2 separate regions of the Homo sapiens genome follow, and region 2 is linked to region 1. A link means that fine-mapping ties the variant in region 1 to the expression of a gene that starts in the linked region. Tissue or cell type: whole blood. Region 1 holds a variant in brackets; the other region holds the start of a gene. All regions are shown on one strand. Distances are between the middles of the regions.

Region 1 (10,164 bases):
TCTCAGCTTGAATGTCATTTCCTCAGGGTGGCCTTCCCTGACCCCACAAAGTCAGCTGCTCTTATGACATTCTCTCAAAACACTCTGAATTTCCTCTTAGCTCAACATACCCATAACTTCCCCTTACATTTCTGCCTTCCTCTCTGGACTGTAAGCTCCACCAGTGCAGGGACTTTGTCTCTGTCATTCTGAACCCACTGACCTCCATGTATCTTTAGGAGCTCAATAAATATTAATTAAATTAATAAATATTAAATTAAATATTAATTAAATCAATAAATATTGATAAATATTAATTAAATATTTATTTAATTAATATTTATTAAGATTTACAAATGAGTGAATGGTGGTCCTAGTCATATTAAATGAAGTATAATCCTGACTTATATTTGTATAACTCTTTTCTCTTTTTAGTACATTTTTACTTCTGTTTTCCCATTTGACCCTCCAAAAACTCAGCTCTACCTGGAGAGTCTCTCTCAGTCCTTAAAGTGCATATGAGATCCCCTAGCTGTTAGGTGTGAGCATGGACTGGAGGTGGATGGCCTGCCTTCCCATCCTAATTATGCCACTTCAGATCTGTGTCTTGGGCAAATTCCCTCACCTCTTTGTGCCCCAGTGTCTTCGTTTGTGCTTACCTCATAGGTGTACTATGAGGAGCAAATGAATATATAATGTAAAGATCTTGAACAGTGCCAGATACCTAACAAATGCTAGCTATCATTCCAGGAGCAGCATGAAGATGAAGAGTATAGGGGCCAGTATTACAGATTAGGCATCCCCAATATTGTGCTGAGTAGAAGAAGCTGGACACAAAACAGCACACACTGTGCATTTCCATTACATGAAGTTCAAGGATAGGCAAAACTAGCCTATGATGACAGAGGTAGGCTAGAACAGTAGTGGGCGGGGGCAAGCACACTGACTGGGAAGTACACAGTAGTCTTCTTGGGTGCTGGAAATGTTTTGTGTCTTGATCTGGGTGGTGGTTACACAGGTAAGTATGTCTACAGAAATTTTTTTTTTTTTTTTTGAGATGGAGTCTCGCTCTGTTGCACAGGCTGGAGTACAATGGCACCATCTCAGCTCACTGCAACCTCCGCCTCCAAGATTCAAGCAATTCTCGTGCCTTAGCCTCCCAAGGAGCTGGGATTACAGGCATATGCCACCATACCTGGCTAATTCTAATTTTTGTATTTTCAGTAGATACAGGGTTTCGCCATGTTGGCCAGGCTGGTCTCGAACTCGTGACCTCAGGTAATCTGCCCACCTCAGCCTCCCAAAGTGCTGGGAGTACAAGCGTGAGCCACCGCACCCAGCCAGAAATGTATTCTTAAGATTTGTGGCTGGGCACGGTGGCTCACGCTTGTACTCCCAGCACTTTGGGAGCCCGAGGTGGGTGGATCACATGAGTTCAGGAGTTCGAGACCACTCAGTGAGCCAGTCAGCTCCAGGGGAACAGAACTCCGACATCCTCCCTGCCGGGGCCTCACGGTCAGGATTGCTAGTGATTGGGATCTCAGGCTTATTGATCTAGTTTGTCTTCAAGTGATAGAAATCCAAAGCAAATAGGCATATGCAAAATCAGAGCCATTTATTGGGAGAATGCTGGTGTGCTTATGGAACATAGCCTTGGGAAGTGCAGGGAGGGCCTCAGAGACAAGTGGGCCCTTGGACACTTTCTCCCCTCTCTGCTTTTCCTAGTTTTATCAGATCAGCTTTCTCCCCATAATGGGGGATGTGGCTGCCATTAGTTCCTGAGCCTCATGCTAGAAAACCTGTATCCTGCGTCAGTCCAGTCCAGCAAATCTGAGGGAAAGGCTCTGATTGGCCCATTTTGAGTACAATGCCCATCCCTAGACCGATCAACTGTGGCCATGAGCGTATGACCAATAACACCCACTGAAATTACATAGTGATTAGAAAGCAGAAAGGAACAGGTCCCCAAAAGAAGGTGTTGTTCCCAGAAGAAAAGGGGGTGCTGGGCAGGGAAGACAATATCACAGATGTCACAGTGGTGGGACAGAGAGGGATACAACTAAGTCCATGAAGGCTGGCCTGTGTCTCTTCTAATTAAACATAACTTTCTCAGTCCCTGTTGTCCAGTAATCCAGAGACAAGGTCAGCAGGATCCTACCTTTGAGATCCAACTAACTCAGCAAGTGGTGGGAGGGGCACCAGAGAAACATCAGGTCCTGTCTCAAGCCAGGACCTTCAGCCCTGTCAACAGGACAGTCCAAGAGAGTGGTGGAAGCTCACCAGGCTGGGCCCCCACAAACCAGTCCTGATGCCACAACTAACAGGCTGGGCCTCAGTGTCCTCCTCTGTAAAATGAGAGCTGTTGAGCTACCTGATTAGAGAGATAACATTGAGTTCCTGAATGCCAAACAGCTTGGATTTAAATCTCAGCTCTAGGCCTGGCATGGTGCCTCACACTTGTAATCCTAGCACTTTGGGAGGACGAGGCGGGTGGATGGCTTGAGCCCAAAAGTTTGAGAGCAGCCTAGGCAACATGGCAAAATCCCACCTCTACAAAAAATACCAAAAAATTAGCCAGTCATGGTGACGTGCACCTGTAGTCTCAGCTACTCAGCAGGCTGAGATGGGAGGACCATTTGAGCCCAGGAGGTTGAGGCTGCAGTGTGCACTCCAGTCTGGGCAACAGAGAGACCCTGTCTCAAAACTCTATCAATTCATCAATCTTAGCTCTACCCTTAGCAGCTCTGTGGTTTTAGAAACTTTTAAAAAATTTTTACTTGTTATTGGCCGGGGGCGGTGGCTCACGCCTGTAATCCCAGCACTTTGGGAGACTGAGGTGGGCAGATCATGAGGTCAGGAGATTGAGACCATCCTGGCCAACATGGTGAAATCCCGTCTCTACTAAAAATACAAAAATTAGCTGGGCTTGGTGGCACATGCCTGTAATCCCAGATACTCGGGAGGCTGAGGCAAGAGAACCCCTTGAACCAGGGAGTTGGAGGTTGCAGTGAGCCGAGATCTTGCCACTACACTCCAGCCTAGCAACAGAGCAAGACTCTGTCTCAAAAAATAAAATAAAATAAAATAAATTTTTACTTGTTATTTTGAAAAGAATTTTAAATTTACAGGATATTTTCAGGAGTAAGCCAAATAACTCCTGTATACCCTTAACCCAGAATCTGCAATTTCTACCATGTTGCCGCACTTATTTAGTCATTCTTTCTCTCTTTTTTTTCTGAGCCATTTGAGAGTACATTGCATATATCATGTCCCTTTACCCTTCACAGTTCAGTGTATTTCCTAAGAGCAGGGACTTTCTCTTACATAACTGCAGTGCAGTTATTAAATTCAGTAGATTTATTATTGATAATGATACCTTCTCATTGACAGTTCATATTCCAAATGTGGCCAGTTGTCTTGGCAACCCTCCAGCTTTTTTTTTTTCCCCTCCAATACTGGATCCAGGCCAGGATCAATGACTGCATTGAGTTGTCATGTCATGATATTGGAATGCTCATACACTGTTGGTGGGAATGTGAAATGGTGTGGCTACTTGGGAAAATAGTCTGACCGTTCCTCAAAAAGGTAAATACAGAGTTTCCACATGACTCCAGCAATTCCACTCCTGGGTATATACCCAACCGAAATGAAAACATGTCCACACAAAAACTTGTGTACAAATGTTCACAGCAGCATTATTGATAATAGTCAAAAGGTGAAAACTACCTAAATCTCCAACAATGATGAGTGAATGAACAAAATGTGGCATAGCCATACAATGGATTACTATTTGGCCATAGAAAGGACTGAAATACTGACACAAGCTGCAATGTGGATGAAACTGGAAAACGTGTGAAGTGCAGAGAGCCAATCACAGAAGACCACACGTTGTATGATTCCATTTACATA[A/C]GATGTTCAGAACAGCCAAATCCATAAAGACACAAAGTAGATCAGTGGTTGCTCAAACCTGGGACAGAGCGCACACACGCGCACACGTGTGTGTTAAAAACAACAACAGAAATCAGCTAGAGGTGCATGGTGGCTGCCCTTAGACCTGGCCCGTGCACTCGTTTGCCACAGTCTCCACCATGCCCTGTTACTCCCCGACACTGCACCTAGGGGCCAGGTCCGTTTAGCACAGCACTTCCATCTGTGTTCCTCACACCCTGCTGCTTCCCCTCACCGACTTCACACCTGTCCTGCCCCAGAGGAAGTTAATTTGGTGATGGCCTATGTGAAGACAGTCAGTAGGTGGTTCCCGCCTGGAATCCCAGCACTTTGGGAGGCCAAGACGGGAGGATCACTTGAGCCCACGGGTTTAAGACCAGCCTGGGCAACATGGCAAAACCCTGTCTCTATAAAAAATACAAAACATTAGCCAGGTGTGGTGGCATGAGCCTGTAGTCCCAGCTTCTCAGGAGGCTGAGGTGGGAGAATCACTGGAGCCTGGGAGGTTGAAGCTGCAGTTAGCTATGATCGTGCCACTGCATTCCAGCCTGGGTGACAGAGCAAGATCCTGTCTCACAAAAAAAAAAAAAAAAAAAAAAGGAAAGCAAGGGTGAGTCAATGACAAGAAGGTGTGCAGTGTGGGTGACAAAAACAAGGGGGGAGTCTGCAAGGGGGAGCAGCTTGAGGGGAGCAGAGACTTCAAGGGGAGGAAGCCTGAGTGACTCAGCAATCATTGGGGGACATTAGGGCAGAGGGAGGAAGTACAGGCCGGGTGCGGTGGCTCACGCCTGTAATCCCAGCACTTTGGGAGGCTGAGGCAGGCAGATGACTTGAAGTCAAAAGTTCGAGACCAGCCTGGCCAACATGGTGAAACCCCATCTCTACTAAAAATACAAAAAATGAGCTGGGCGTGGTGGTGCACGCCTGTAATTCCAGCTACTCAGGAGTCTGAGGCAGGAGAATAGCTTGGCCCCAGGAAGTGGAAGTTGCAGTGAGCCAAGATCACACCATTGCACTCCAGCCTGCATGACAGAGTGAGACTCTGTCTTGAAAACAACAACAACAACAAAAAAAAAAACAAAAGAAGGAAGAAGTGCAGGATCCTGGGTGGAACATGTCGGGGTATTCAGGCACCAGGCAGGAGGCCATGACACCCCCCATTCCCCACCAAGGGATTCCTGGTGCCAGTGAGGGCTGAGCCATCAGGGACAGGGACAGGTGCACCCCTTCAGTGGCCATGTCCCTCCAGGCCGGCCTCCCCAGTGCTGCCCCCATGGGCCCCGCCTCTTCCAAAGCTTGCACCCCAGGAGACAATAGAAGCACCTCATCCTGGCATTTAGGGACCCTGGGAATCTGGCCCCACCTTATCCTTCCAGCCTGTACCTGCTGCCTCCGCTTATTCAAGACCTAAGTTTCCTGGTGGCCGTGCCCCCCATGGGGTGGCTGTCATCCAGGCAGGGGTATTCCTGGGGAGCCCTTCCCTTCCCTACCTCCAATGCACCTACAGGGCCCCTACTATTAATAGCAGCACCTCTGCCTGGGGCTCCCTGAGAGGCTGGGGTGGGAGAGGGGTGGTCCAGCAGGCAGTAATCAATGTCCCCAAATGGTGGCAAGTGTGTGTGAATATGTGTGCCGGTGTCTGTGTGTGTGTGTGTGTGTGTGTGTGTGTGTGTGTCTGTTTGTGTTTGTGTGTGTGTGTGGTGGGAGTTTCTGCACTGTGATAGGAGGAAAGCACAAGTGGTTCTGGGATCCAGGGCAGAAGGGGCTCCTCTGTGTCCAGGGCTCAGGGATGCTCCCCAGAGTACCGGATATCTCAGCTAGGACTGAAGGGACAGGAAGTCACTCAGTGCAGGAGAGTAAGGGGGGAACTCTAGGCAGTGGGGACGGTGTGTAGGAAACATGACGGTGTGGAAAATAAAAAGTTCCTCTTCAAAGTTTCCCTTCTTGTTAAAGAATAAATAATAAATGTTAAAAGTAATAGTTTCTTTTAAAGACTAACTTCCTCTTCCTTCCTTATTTGGAAATGTTATTACTTTTCTAAGACCTTTTGCAAGCAACTTCCTCTTTTCCTTTTGTTCTCCATTGCCTTTACCTATTTAGGAAAGTTTTAAGTTGTTAGCCAATTGAGTTTAGCTTAGATTGTGAGGTCCGTCTCCAAGCAACGAAGAGAGGACACAGCAGTAAGGACCCAGTGTGTAAGGGATAAATATTCCTGCCTTTCTTTATTCATCGTGCTCTTGTGGCAAAATTGCTGATGGGCAGCATCCTTTCTGCAGAAAGTAAAATTGCCTTGCTGAGAAAACTTTTTGTCTGAATGCTAATTTTTCCTTGTGGCACCAAGGAACAAGCATTTTGTTTTCAAGAATCACGTGACCCACCTGGGCACATGGGGTGGTCTGAAAGGCAGGGCTGTGGGGCTGCCCAGGTGAGCCCTGGTGGACAAGGAGAAGGGCTTCCCTCTGAAGCTCTCAGGGCCACCAGCTGGGTGGTGGAGCCCAGAGGTGGCTTTCCCTTGGATCCCTTTGGGAGCCTGAATGGAGGGGTGTGGGTGGGGGAGACTGGAGGCAGTGAGGCTGGTGTGGTGGTAAAGTTCAGTTGAGCCCACTCCCACGTCAGGAGCAGAGTCAGGGTTTGAAGGCTGTGGCCCAGCAAGGGGGCTCAGAACTATTCCACAGTGCCCACGGCCCTCAGAATACAGGCTCAGCTTCTGTCCTGGGACTCGAGCTCTCCCAACCTGGCCCCAGTCCTACCTTCAGACTAGCACATCACTCCAGCAAGACACCCTCGGTCATCCCTGAGCTTTTGCAGAGGCTACCCTCCTGCCCTTGTCCCTACTTACTTAGGCGACCTCTCCTCACACTGCAGGGCTCAGCACACTGGCCTCCAGAAAGCCTTGCTTCATCCCCCACCCAGCACTGACCTGCAGACCATCAGGGTTGTCGGTTAAAGGACCAAAGTCCGGACAGGAGGAAGAGGTTTTGACATCTAGCGCACAGCAGGGTGACCAGAGTCAATGAGAGTGTGTTGCATTTTGCAAAACAACTGAGAGAGTCCGTATCAAATGTCTCTCTGCATTTAGATTGGAGAGGATGAAGGCCCTGAGGTCCAAGAACATGGAAACCTGACAGTGGACGCCAACAGCTGTGGAGAGAAGCCGGGCGACAGCTGTGGAGAGAAGCCGGGCGATATGCTCACGCTTCCGTGTGCCCAGCAATCCTGCTTTATCTTTTTAAATAAAGGTGATTCCTGATAACACTACCGTTTCTTGCAAATTTTGTAGTAGCATTGGAAAGGTGGCAGATGAGTCACAGGCAATCTGCTGCTTTGCGCCCTCCCTGCACAGAATGGGGGCTGTGCACACCCTAGTTTAGGCAGTATGCAGTCATGTGATCCTCTCAGTTACTCAGAAAAACTGAAAGGAAAAGAGACCTCAGAGAAGTATCAGGATGACCCCACCCACAGAAAATCATTACCAGTGGCTCTGAAGGGCTGAGGCTCTGAGCAGGTGCAAGGCAGAGTCCCACACATTGTGCATGGCCTCCCCACACTCACACTGCCCAGTGAGCATTTTCAGAAGGACCAGCGGCCCCTTCAGGTCTCGTCTGACTGTGTTAATCATGCTGAGAGGTCTCCAGGAGGATCCTGAAGTCCTGGGAACCAGACTGTGCTGGGGTTAGAGTGGCATGGGGTCAGAGTGGCTCCCATCAGGGAGCTTCCTCATGTGTTATTAAGAAGTTTGAGGGAGGTCCAGAAGGCCCTGCCCTTGTGCATGGCCGGTGGCTCAGTGTGCACAGCCTAGAACATGCTGTGACCCTGCCCACTACTGATGGTGGCCAGGGACTGTCCTGGAGTTCCACTGGTCAAATACGATTCTCCTTCCCCAATAAAGAGCAGGACCAGGAAGCAAGAAGTGACCTGGGGAGAGGGTGGGAGTGCTGTGGGGCTCCTTGTCTCCCCAGTGTGCTGTTGTCCATAAAATCCACTTTGGGGTTAAGGGTCCCCCAGGTGTGAATACTGAAGAAAGAAGAAAGAAAAAAAGAAAGAAAGAAAGAAAGAGAGAAAGAGAGAGAGGGAGGGAGGGAAAGGAGGGAAGGAGGGAGGGACGGAGGGTGGGAGGGAGGGAGGGAAAGAAACAGAGAGAGAGAAAGAAAATAAAAGAAAGGAAAAGGAAAAAGAAGGAAAGGAAGGTAAGGAAAAGGGAAAGGGGGTAAGGAGGAAAGGCAGAAAAGAAGCTGATCTTTCTCTTTCCTTCTTTCTTTCCTTTCTTCCTCCCTCCCTCCCTTCTCTCCTTCCTTCCTTCTCTCTCTCTCTCTCTCTCTCCTTCTCTTTCTCTCTCTCCCTCTCTCTTAGAACAAGAATTCAAGGGGAGCGCCACGAAGAGAGATTTCACAGAGAAAGTGAATTTAGTATTAAACAGGTTATAATTAAGCTAAGAGGCTACAATTAGGACTCTTAGTAATGAGGGGGAATCCATATGCTTGTTATGTCAAAAATGTAAGTAAGCCAATTACATATTCTAGTACAATAGATCTGTGCTAGAAAGTCAGACCAAACATGAGACCAATTAAGATGAGGCATGACTTTAAACATATAATGGATGATAAATCTAAAAACCCATTTTCACAGGAAACAGTTTGATGCAGGGCTGGTATGGAGTCATTGTGTCCAGTTTTATGTCTTGGATCCATAGGGGGAAAGTTACGTAATCATATTAACCTAAATGCTAGTTATTTATTTTACTTTTCTTATTTATTTTACTTTTCTGAATCAGCACACAAAGCATGAAAAGCTTAATTGTATTTACAGAAAATATAAAAATAAAACCATTTAAACAAGCTAGAGTTGACAGAATTTGGACAATAGGTGGGAAAAGGCCATGTAAAGTTATCAGCGGGGTCTTCGCTCATACCAGCCTGAACGCACCCGATCTTGTCGGATACAGCTGTCAGAGGCTATGGGACTTAGGAGTGGTACGCAGATGTCATTTCCCCGTGATAGCTCCCGAAATAGAGCTGAGAAGACAGGTACAGAGTTATAAAGGTGACCTCTAAATGAAGTTTGCTACAGGAGATGAGAAACAGTTACAATGAGTGTAGCCAGGGCATGGTACAAGTGAGCTAATTGCTCAACTTTTATGAAATTACAAATCTAGAAGTAGGGGGCTTACTCACATTTAGAGTTTTGAATAACTGCCAGAAAAATTAAAAACAGAAATGATTGAAAATATTTAGTGTGTTTCAGCCAGGCGTGGTGGCTCACATCTGTAATCCTAGCATTTTGGGAGGCTGAGACGGGTGGATTGCCTAAGCTCAGGAGTTCGAGACCAGCCTGGGCAACATGGTGAAACCTCGTCTCTACTAAAATACAAATAATTAGCTGGGCGTAGCAGCATGCGCCTGTAGTCCCAGCTACTCGGGAGGCTGAGGCAGGAGAATGGCTTCAACCCATGAGGTGGTGGTTTCAGTGAGCTGAGATAGTGCCACTGCATTCCAGCCTGGACAACAGAGTGAGACCCTGTCTCAAAAAAAATAATAATAAAATAAAAATATTTAGCGTGTTTCACGGAATGGGTGCTTCATACGGGTGCTGGATGAGTCCTCCTGGGGAGGTGGTGTTGGAGCAGAGCCCTGCAGGAAGCGTGGGAGTTAGCCCCGTGGCGCGCTCTGGGAACAGTGAGGGCCACTTTCGTCCCACAGCCAAGTGCAGGGTGTGTTTCAGGTCAGCAAGGAGTGAGGTTGGTCTAGGAGGAGCCAGCGGGAGAGCAATAAGAAACAAGGTTAGGAGAGCGGCTGGGGGCCAGCTTTTGGGTTTTATTCTGCATGTGATGGAAAACAAGGGAAGCTGAGTGGGCTGGGGAGTCACAGGATGTGGCTGCTGATGGCAGAACAAGGAGAAGACGGCTGGGTGCAGTGGCTCACGCCTGTAATCCCAGCGCTCTCGGAGGCCGAGGCAGGAGGATTGCTTGAGCCAAGAGTCCAAGATCAGCCTGGGTAACATGGCAAAACCCGCCTCTACTAAAAATACAAAAAATTAGCTGGGTGTGGTGGTGCACGCCTGTAGTCCTGGCTACTCAGAAGGCTGTGAGACAGGAGGATCACTTGAGCCCTGGAGGTGGAGGCTGCAGTGAGCTGAGACAGGTTCTTTCAGATTGGCATACATGTTAAATACAGGTTAGCATCCTAAATCTGAGAAGTGTGAAATCCAAAATGTGCCAAAATTTAAAACTTTTTGAGCACC
Region 2 (10,164 bases), 23 kb before region 1:
TAGAACATAACTCATCACCACTAAGTGTGGGCTGTACATAGTGACAATTTTCCAGAGTACAGTAGGAAAGAGAGGAGGAAAGAGTAACTTTGCAGAAAACAAACTCTGCCTCAAGCCAGATGAGCAGGGTTAACATCAACACTGATAAGTCATACTGGTAGTATACATCCCTAATATGTGATGAGAATGACACTTTAGCCCTGTGGTCTTCCTTCCAAAAGCATATTACATTCTTGGCCTAACCACAATGAAAACATCAGATAAATCCCAAAGAACGTTCTATAAAAATACCTGACCACGGCTGGACACAGTGACTCACGCCTGTAATCCCAGCACTTTAGGAAGCTGAGGAGGGTGGATTGCTTGGTTCTAGGAGTTCGAGACCAGCCTGGGCACCATGGTGAAACCCCATCTCTACAAAAAGTACAAAAATTAGCAGAGCATGATGGCACACATCTCTGGGCCCAGCTACTCCGGACATTGAGGTCAGAGGATCACTTGACCCCAGAGTGTTGAGGCTGCAGTGAGATGAGATCGTTCCACTGCACTCCAGTCTTGGTGACAGAGGGAGATCCTGTCTCAAAAAAACAAACAAACAAAACCTGACCAGTAATGTTCAAAACTGCCAAGGTCACTAAATACAGGGAAAGTCTGAGAAATTGTCACAACCAAGAGGAGCTAAGGAGACATAATTACTAAATGTAATGTGGTATTGTGGATGGGATCCTGGGATAGTGAAAGAACATTAAGGAAAAAACCTGTGGAAACCTGATAAAGTATGGTCTCTGTGATAATGTATCAATACTGGTTTATTAATACAGACAAATGATCACAGGGATGTAAGACGTTAATAATATGGGAAACAGTGTAGGATAGGCAGGAACTCTGCAGTATCTTTGCAATGTTTCTGTAAATCTAAATTTTAAAGTCTATTTTTAAAAATTATAACAAATTTATGATCAACGGCATCCCTGGAATTTTACTCAGTGCATCTAGGACACAAAAGATACTTAAAATATGGTCTTTGCCTTCAAGAAGCTTGTTGTCGCAGAGTGAAGACAAATGCTCATGAAACTAGTATAAAATACAAAAATAAGAAAAAATTAAATTGAAGAGTAAAGATAAAACTATATTAAGAATATAAAGAAGGTCTAGAATTATCAGGAAAGATTTGGTCAAGGAGATAAAACTTGAATTTGTACCTTAAAATATACTTCAGAGTAGCAAAGTTAAAAAAAAAAAAAAAGAATAAACTAAGCTCACAACAACCAGAAGGGTGAAGAAATAAGAAAAAGCTAACAGAAATTAAAATGGCTGGGGCATGGTGGCTCATGCTTATAAACCCAGCACTTTTGGAGGCCAAGGCAAGGGGGATCACTTGAGGCCAGGAGTTTGCCTAGGCAACATATGAGACCCCATCTCTCTCCATAATATCTTTAAAAAAAAGAAAAATAAAAACATTCAGCTCTGAAAAGTGAAGACTTAAATAGGAGACATAATAGCAGTGCTCAAACACTTTAAGGGTCATGTGGCAGAACTAACAGAGTTACACCTATACCCATTTAACTTACAAGCCAACCTCTGGCAAAATGTGACCAATGCTCAAGGACAAAGAGAGTGACAGCTGTTCAGTGGAGCCACAACAGGAAATGCCAATATGGATAGACAGGAAGCAGGTGGCTAAGTTCTCTACAACTTTTCAAAGGACAGTATGTATGTGAGCCCAAAGAAGTAAAAATCAGATTCTAATTCTGCAAATGTTTACTGACTATCTTAAGTGCCGGGCTCTTTCAAATACATTATCTTGTTTAATATTCGCAACACATCTATGAGCATGTATTAATGTAATAGAGGCTTAACATAAAAATAGAATTAAACCCTGCATGGAAACAGGAACATGTCAAAATTCTATACCATCCCCCACTCTCTGATAGGGACTCCAGAGCAGTTTTAAAAAGCCAAACAGTCTGAAGGCCCAGATACCTATATAACAATTTATTTCCTCTTGCTCTTTCCCTCAGTCAAGCTCTGTGGCTCTCAGCCTTTCATATTCGTAAGAATTTTATACAACTATACATACAAAAACATGCAGACCATACTTTTTGAGCAATTTATGGAATTTTCCAGAAGAGTTTTCATCTTACATGATTTTTGCCTCATGCACTAACTTGAGGACCTAACCCTGGGATGAGGTGCAACTCCACTGCAGTCTTACTCCATGGGTACTGTAAGGCAGGATCAGGAAGAGGAAACGGAAAGGTACCATCCTATTACATGAAGAACAACATTCTAACAAAGACATAAAATGTATTTACATAAAATGTAAGAATGACATGTTATGTGGGGAAGTTCAACACTGGAAAACAAGAGCAGCTCATCTGCACCTGCAGACCTTTGCACTCACTGTTTCATTTACCAGGAAAGCGCTACCATTTTTCAGGTCACAACTCAAATACCTTCTCCTTAATGAGGCCTCCTCTCACTAAGTAACCCTCCACCCACCTTTCAGTCATTCACTTGTCACATCAGCTTGTTTTATTTTCTTCATAATTCATATTAGGGGTCAGCAAACATTTTCTATAAAAGGCCAGACTATAATCTATAGGCCAAATCCACCTTGCCCCGTTTTATATGGCTAAGAATGGTTTTACATTTTTAAATGGCTAGGGGAAAATATTTTTAAAAACTCATTAATATTCTGTGACATGTGAAAATTTTATGAAATTCAAATTTCAGTGTCCCAAGTTTAACTGGAATATAAACATATTTGTTCACGTACTGTCTGTGGCTGCTTTTGTACTAAAACAGAATTGAGTAGTTGCAAAAGAGATCATATGGCCCAAAAACCCTGGTATGTACTGTACTTCCTGGTCCTTTACCAAAAAAAGCTTACTAACCACTGATTTATATCATTATCTGAAATGATCCTATTTGCTTGTTTGTTGTATATTCCTCATTCCCATACATACAGAATAAAGCTTAATTAGGGAAGAGGCCTTGTCTGTTTTGTCCCAACAATGTAGCCCAGTACTTAGAAAACATCCTGGAACAAAGTAAGGGCTCAATAAACATTTGATGAATTAATGAATGATCCATAAATGCCACTCTGAGGAGCTTAAACCTAAGCCCTGAGCCATTATATGTTCTGCACATTTATGAGAGGCATAAGCAGTCTTGCAGAAAAGGGGAAATATTCTACTATCAAGAAGGCCCAGTTTAAAGTAATGGTGGTTGGTCACCAACTAGTCTAGGGCACTGGGGTTCTTCATCAAATTGTAGACTACAGGTCTTTTGTGCTCATAAAAGAGTCCTTCTGCAAGGTGTCCCAACACTGTCAGCGGTCTGTGCTTCTGTTTATCTTAAGATGCAAATGCTCTGAGAAATCTCATTCTTATACACAGTACACAGCACCTACACCATACCAAATCTTAATCAATGCTCATAATTATAACAGTTCTACATCACATGCTAATGAATTTTTAACGTCTAAAATTTTCCTATGCTGCTGATCAGCAATCTATAAGCAGCTCAAAACTCTTCAGAAATTAAAAGGTTACCACCCACAGACCAGAAGCAGCTTTTTAATCTTTCTACACTAGCCAGAGAGTGGGTGATTGCAAAAAAATACAAGCCAACTCTGTTGGTAGAGGACAGGGTTATTAAGTTAAAATCCCATCTATAAGCATCGTTTTGTCACATGACACTAGTAAAACTACCACCTACTCACAATTTGAGTTTCAATCTCCTAATATACAGAGAAAAAAATGTATCTACCTCCTGGAACAAATCAAAGTTTTGTTTTATTTTAAAGCAGCTATCTGATATTTATGCCCTGGATTTTTTTTTTTTAAGAACAGAATAAGCTAATTTAGGAATTCACACCTTTCGTAGAGATGCTTATGGTACAGGTACCTCTGACGGCTAGGCTCTACCAACACTAACGTGTAACGTGTCACAAAAGCCAACGGGCGTTGCGGGGGCCGGGGGTAGCCAACAGCTCAAGTGGGCTGCTTCACTCCGTGGCAGATTCACCTGGGGATTCCTCACCAAGAATGTTGTTAAGGGACGAACCAAACCAACCACAAATGATACCCCTTTACCGAGGCTGAAAAAGCAGAGATTCGCAAGCTATAAACGAATCTCTGGCCCTTTAGGGAAGGTGCAACTCGCTGCACCTCTTTCCCCTATCCTACAGGGGTTAACAGGGGGCATCCTGAGGCCGAGACCAAGCCCAGCCAGCTCCTCCTCACATCCCACCTCCCACTACATATTCTCCCCAGTACGCCGGGCTCCCTCCTCCCCTCGAAAGACAGTTCAAAATCAAAACAATAGGTGCAAAACTGGTTTCAGGTGGAAATGGCTGAGTCCTGGTGGCTAACTTCTGGGACGCCATGGCGATCGAGGGCTCCTAAAACCCCAGATTCCGACGGGAACCGGCTCCTAAACAGTCCCTCGGGCCTCGGCCCGACTTCTCACACGCCCCTCCCTCACCTCGGCCCTGGGATGCTGGGAAGGGAACGAGGCGAGGGGCTGGAGGGGAACCCCAGGTCAAAATGACAGCGGAATGAGCCGGGAAAGGAAAGAGGCCCCGTGGGATGCTGGGGGTCGAGTCCTAGGCCCGGGGCTTCAACCTCGAACGGGGGCGACGGCAGGTCCCAGCCCCGACAGGCCGCGAGCGGGAGGCCAGGCCCGCGTCCGCTGCGCCGCCAGGCCACGCTCCCTCACGACTGTCCCCACCCACCGCGGAGGGCCGTGAGGGGGCCGCGACCGCCGCCAGCGTCCGGGGCGGGGGCGCTCACTCACCGGCGGGGAGGGGAGGAGCAGCCGGCGTCTCCGCCAGCGCCGTCGCTCGAGCTCAAGCGCCTGCTCCTTCCACTGCGGCCGCCGCACCCGGTCCATCCCCCACAACCACCCCCCCCTCCCGACCCTCCCCCCGCGCCGCCTCAGCCGCCGCCGCCTCAGTCACCGCCACCGCCGCCGCCGCCTCAGCCCCGGCGCGGGAGGGCGAACCGGCGCGAGAGAGCGAGCGCGCGCGCGCCCCCGCCACAGCCGCCACCGCCCACAACCTCCGCCCCCGGCCGGCGGCGCACGCGCAAGGGAGCGGGCGGACGGGCGCGCGCACGCCGCAGGGGCGGGGATGGGCCCTGGAAGGCGTGGCCCCTCCCCTAGCCCGCCTTCCCACGCGGTCTCTGGGCTGGTTGAGCTGCGCCGCTGCAGGTAGTGCTGAGTTGCTCCAGGTAAGCTCCTCCTCTCAAAAAGCTCTAGGAACCGAGCCACCCTCGCCCTAGGAGCAACGCCCCTGAGTAATATGGGGTTTCGTCGGATTTCTGCCCGCCGCTCTGGATCACACGTTTGTTCTCCCTATTTGAGTCGCAAGGCCTTCCTTCATTCCACCTAGCAGGCTGCTTGGAAAAGGGCAGAGACTCATTACTTTGCACCAGGTATTACCACTGAAGGGATTGTAAGCAGCCACCAGCCCATCCCTTTATAATTCCCATTTTCCTAATTTATTTTATTTTTATTACTTATGTAATGAGGCTTCTTCCGTGTTCAAGGAGCTGGGAGTACCATATGGGGTCAACGGAGTCCCTGGTCTCATGAAGTTTGAGATCTGGTGGAGAAGGAAAACATTCATGGGAGAATCAGACAAAATTAAGTTTTCAATTAGTAAAAATCTTCTGAGAGGTATATGGTACTAAGAGAATCTTTATGGGGGAATTGATTTAGTTGAGGATGAAGAGGGTAGAATCTGAGGAATTGAGTTGGGAGGAGTTAGTTGCTCCAAGGGGTGAGGTCTTGGCATGGCCAGAATGGGGAGCGCTAAAGAATATTGAATGTGGAGTAGACTGCGAGTGTGGGAAGAGGTAGGCGAGAACAGGTGAGGATTGGGGACCTATTTATTTATTTATTTATTGAGACAGAGTCTCACTCTGTCACCCAGGTCACCCAGGCTGGAGTGCAATGGCTCGATCTCAGCTCACTGCAACCTCCGCCTCCTGGGTTCAAGCGATTCTCCTGTCTCAGCCTCCGGAGTAGCTGGACTACCAGCGCACGCCAGCGCACCTGGCTAATTTTTGTATTTTTAGTAGAGATGGGGTTTCGCCATCTTGGCCAGGCTGGTCTGGAACTCCTGACCTTGTGATCTGCCCGCCTCGGCCTCCCAAAGTGCTGGGATTGCAGGCATGAGCCACCACACCCGGCCGGATTTGGGACTTTAATCTGAGTGCTTGGTAGAAGCTATTCAGGTTTTTTTCAGCAGGGTTGCAGGGGAAATAACTTGATCATTATGTCTGTTTTTTGTTTTTGAGAGGCAGACTGGAGTGCAGTGGCGCGATCTCGGCTCCCTGCAATCTCTGCCTCCCGGGTTCAAGTGATTTTCCTGCCTCAGCCTCCCTAGTACCTGGGACTACAGGTGCACGCCACTGCACCCAGCTAATTTTTTTAGTATTTTTAGTAGAAACGGGGTTTCACCATGTTGGCCAGGATGGTCTGAATCTCCTGACTTCATGATCCACCCACCTCGGCCTCCCAAAGTGCTGGGATTACAGGTGTGAGCCACCTTGCCCCCAGCCCATTATGTCTGTTTTTAAGTTACTTAGATAGCAACGTGAAGAGTGGTCTGATGGGAGTCTCAAAGCTGGGGCCGGGAAGCCAGTTAGGAGGCCACTGGCCACATAGTCAAGGCAAAGTAGGAGGGTAGTGACAGAGAAGAGTGCTAATGTAGTGGTAAAATGGACAGGACTTGGCAATAAATTGAATGAGGAGTGAAGGAGAAGGAGGTGGCAAGGTTTACTTAGATTTGAGGTTGGTGGAGGATGCATTTATAGATTTCAGAAGCACTGAAGGAGCCACCTGAGGTAACTCAAAATGGATGATAAACCTAAATTTAAAAGCTAAACCTATAAAAGAAAATTTTAGAAGAAAACATAGAAAAAGTATTTGTGACCTTGGGATAGGCAAAGACTTCTTAGGACACAAAAAATATGAACCATAAAAAGTGATTCATGGCCTGGCTCACACCTGTAATCCCAGCACTTTGGGAGGCCAAGGCAGGCAGATCACTTGAGCTCAGGAGTTCAAGACCAGCCTGGGCAACATGGCAAAATGCTATCTCTACAAAAAATACAAAAGTTAGCTGGGCTTGTTGGCACGTACCTGCAGTCTCAGCTAACTTGTGGGGCTGAGGAAGGAGGATCACTTGAACCTGGGAGGCGGAGGTTGCAGTGAGCTGAGATGGCGCCACTGCACTCCAGCCTGAGTGACAGGGTGAGACCCTGTCTCAAAAAAAAAAAAAAAAAAAAGAAAGCAATTGATAAGTTGAACTCTATCAAAATTAAAAACTGGTACTCTTTGAGAGACAACATTAAGAAAATGAAAAGGCAAGCCACAGGTGGAGAGTTTGCAATAGAAAGCATTAGACAAAAGTCTTGTATCCAGAATACATAAAGAACTGTTATAAATGAGTAATAAGCCAGCCCAATAAACCAATGGGCAAAGGCTTTTTTTATATCTTGTAGATAGTTCACAAGATACAAAAATGGCCTATAAGCAATGAAGAGATTACCAACATCTTTAGTCAACTAGGGATTTTTCCATTTAAAACCACAACACTCTCATTAGGATAGCTAAAATTAAGACCGATGACCCAGCAATCACACTCCTACACATCTCCTTAACCATACTTGATCTCTAAAGGCTGACAATAACACACCAGGGACCCTGTAATCCCAGCACTTTGGGAGGCCAAGGCAAGAGGATCGCTTCAGCCCAGGAGTTCAAGACCAGCCTGGGCAACCTAATGAGACCCCATTTCTACAAAAAAAATTTTTTTTAATTAGCCAGTGTGGGAGTGTACACCTGTAGTCCTAGCTACTGGGGAGCCTGAGGCAGGAGGATCCCTTGAGCCCAGGAGTTCAAGGTTGCAGTGACCTATGATCGCACCACTGTACTCCGGCCTGGGTACCACAGCAAGACCATATCTCTTAAAAAAAAAAAGTCTTTGGCTGGGCGCAGTGGCTCACGCCTGTAATCCCAGCACTTTGGGAGGCCAATGTGGGCAGATCATGAGGTCAGGAGTTTGAGACCAGCTTGGCCAACATGGTGAAACCCCATCTCTACTAAAAATACAAAAATTAGCCGGATGTGGCAGCGTATGCCTCTAATCCCAGCTACTCAGGAGGCTGAGGCAGGAGAATCGCTTGAACTTGGGAGGCGGCGGTTGCAGTGAGCCAAGATCATGCCATTGCATTCAAGCCTGGGTGACAGAGTGAGACTATGTCTCAAAAAAAAAAAAAATTTAAAGACAATAACAAAGTCATACTTTCACTTAACATGATATAACTATCCTGCATACTATTGAAAACATAACAACACTTTTCCCAAGGGGATGCAAAGTCCTTGAGTGATGTTTCTTCTCCACCTTTGATGTCTTATAACTTAATACTGCAATATAAAGTTACCTATCATTAATACGTCTCCATCTTGTAGTAGCAACCGAATTTCCTGCTTAGTAATCAGGATTAGTCACCTCAGCCAGTAGAGGAACTTCCCACTTTACCTGTTGATTCAGAGGCATGAAAGACCCAAGGTGGCCAGGTGACCACCTCAACTCCCAATTCAATGGAAATGTTGTTGGGTCTCCTGGTGGAAGCATTCCTTCTTTTGGAACTAAGACCTCTTGGTCAGAAGAGCCTCTGGACGTTTCTACTTTCAGGAAAAATGAACAACCAAGTACACTCTTCAAAGTTCTGCCAACTGGGGGATTTTTTTTTCACCATTATTCTTCAGGGATGTCCCAGAAAGGGACACTAGTTTTATTTTCACTGGTGCCTGCATATTGTGCAGAACCATCATAAACCTGGGCTATGAACCACAACTGAGTTTTCCCTTCTTCAGTCAACTGGTCATAAGGAATGCCCCATGGCGCCATAGGTGCAGGCTGGGAGAGAGAAGGTAATGTAGCAGGAGTTGGGGCCATGGATATTTGGGCCACTTCCTCGTGCAACTTACCTATGCCTTCAGGGCCCATTTGAGCCCAATCTCATATATACCACTTCAATTTGATAATGGAGTGTTGCTGTGAGTGCACAACTTTATAGCTTGGTGGATCAGATAACACTTAGTTCATGATGAGCAGCTCAGGTCACATGGTAACTTGATGACCCACGGTTAACTGTTCAGTCTCTGCTTAGGCCCAGCAAGCCAAACGTTGTTTCTCAAGAGGACAGTACTCTTCTGCAGGGCTTTGCTCCAAAATCTTAAGGGTCTGCAGCGTGATTCACCTACAGTGGCCTGCCAAAGGCTCTAAACAGCATCTGTATCAGCCCCTTGCAGAATGAGACTCTGGGTTGGTTTTCAGAAATTGTGGCCCTAAGGGTTCCTTTCAGGACAGATATGGAAGCTTCCAGGTCATCTATGCATAGCTTAAAGCTTTAAACACTGAAAGGTGGGAATCTGAAACCCTGAGCTCATCCTTTTCTTTGCCTGCTTTCTTCAGTGCAGTTATGGCCAATGCCATTCTGTTCCTTGGTTTAACTAAAATATTCTAAGGTAACAAATACACAGTCACGCATAACCTTGCTTTCTATAGGTGTTTCATTAGGCGTATTCGATGCTTTATCATGCCATGGACTCCCAGTGCCCTCTTCACCACTGGAAATAGAGTCACTAGTGCCTTTAAATGTAATCATATAAGAATTCATGAAATTCAAGAAATTCAAGAAAACGCAGAACAAATTCAGAAAACTCATCCTCAAGATTCCATTCCTCTAGAGCCACTTTCAGTACCAAATCGGTATCAGTCAGGGTTCCAACAGAGAAGCAGAACCAGTAGGAGATACACAGTGAGATTTACTTCAAGGAATTGACTTATGTGGGGGGAGGGGGGCTGATTAGGCAAGTTGGAAATCTATAATGCAGGCAGGAGAATAGGCTGGAAATTTCAGGCAAGGGCTGAAGTCACAGTCCACAGGCAGAATTTCTTCTTCAGAATTTCTTCTTCTTCAACTCTGCTTTTAAAGACTTTCTACTGATTGAATCCAGACCAACCAGATTATCTAGGATAATCTTTCTTACTTAAAAACAATTTATGAATTTTAGTTATATCCACAAAAACACCTTCAGGCCCAGCATAGTGGCTCATGCCTGTAATCCCAACACTTTGAG

Evidence for each region. PIP is the estimated chance that this variant, and not a neighbour inherited with it, causes the effect.
Region 2: TMCC1 starts here. The variant in region 1 is fine-mapped to the expression of TMCC1 in whole blood (INTERVAL, PIP above 0.99).

Annotation. Positions count from the first base shown.
Region 1 is chr3:129,911,394-129,921,557 of GRCh38, forward strand. No RefSeq gene overlaps it. Among named protein-coding and RNA genes, the nearest start is that of TMCC1-DT, 23 kb to the left of the region's middle. The variant A/C (reference allele first, on the strand shown) is at 3,889.
Region 2 is chr3:129,888,691-129,898,854 of GRCh38, forward strand. It overlaps TMCC1 (transmembrane and coiled-coil domain family 1), which reads right to left and starts at 5,021. Exons shown (of 7, transcript NM_001017395.5): 1 at 4,804-5,021. It overlaps TMCC1-DT (TMCC1 divergent transcript), which reads left to right and starts at 5,181. Exons shown (of 3, transcript NR_037893.1): 1 at 5,181-5,237. RefSeq lists enhancers at 3,603-4,395, 4,396-5,187 and a silencer at 4,549-5,278.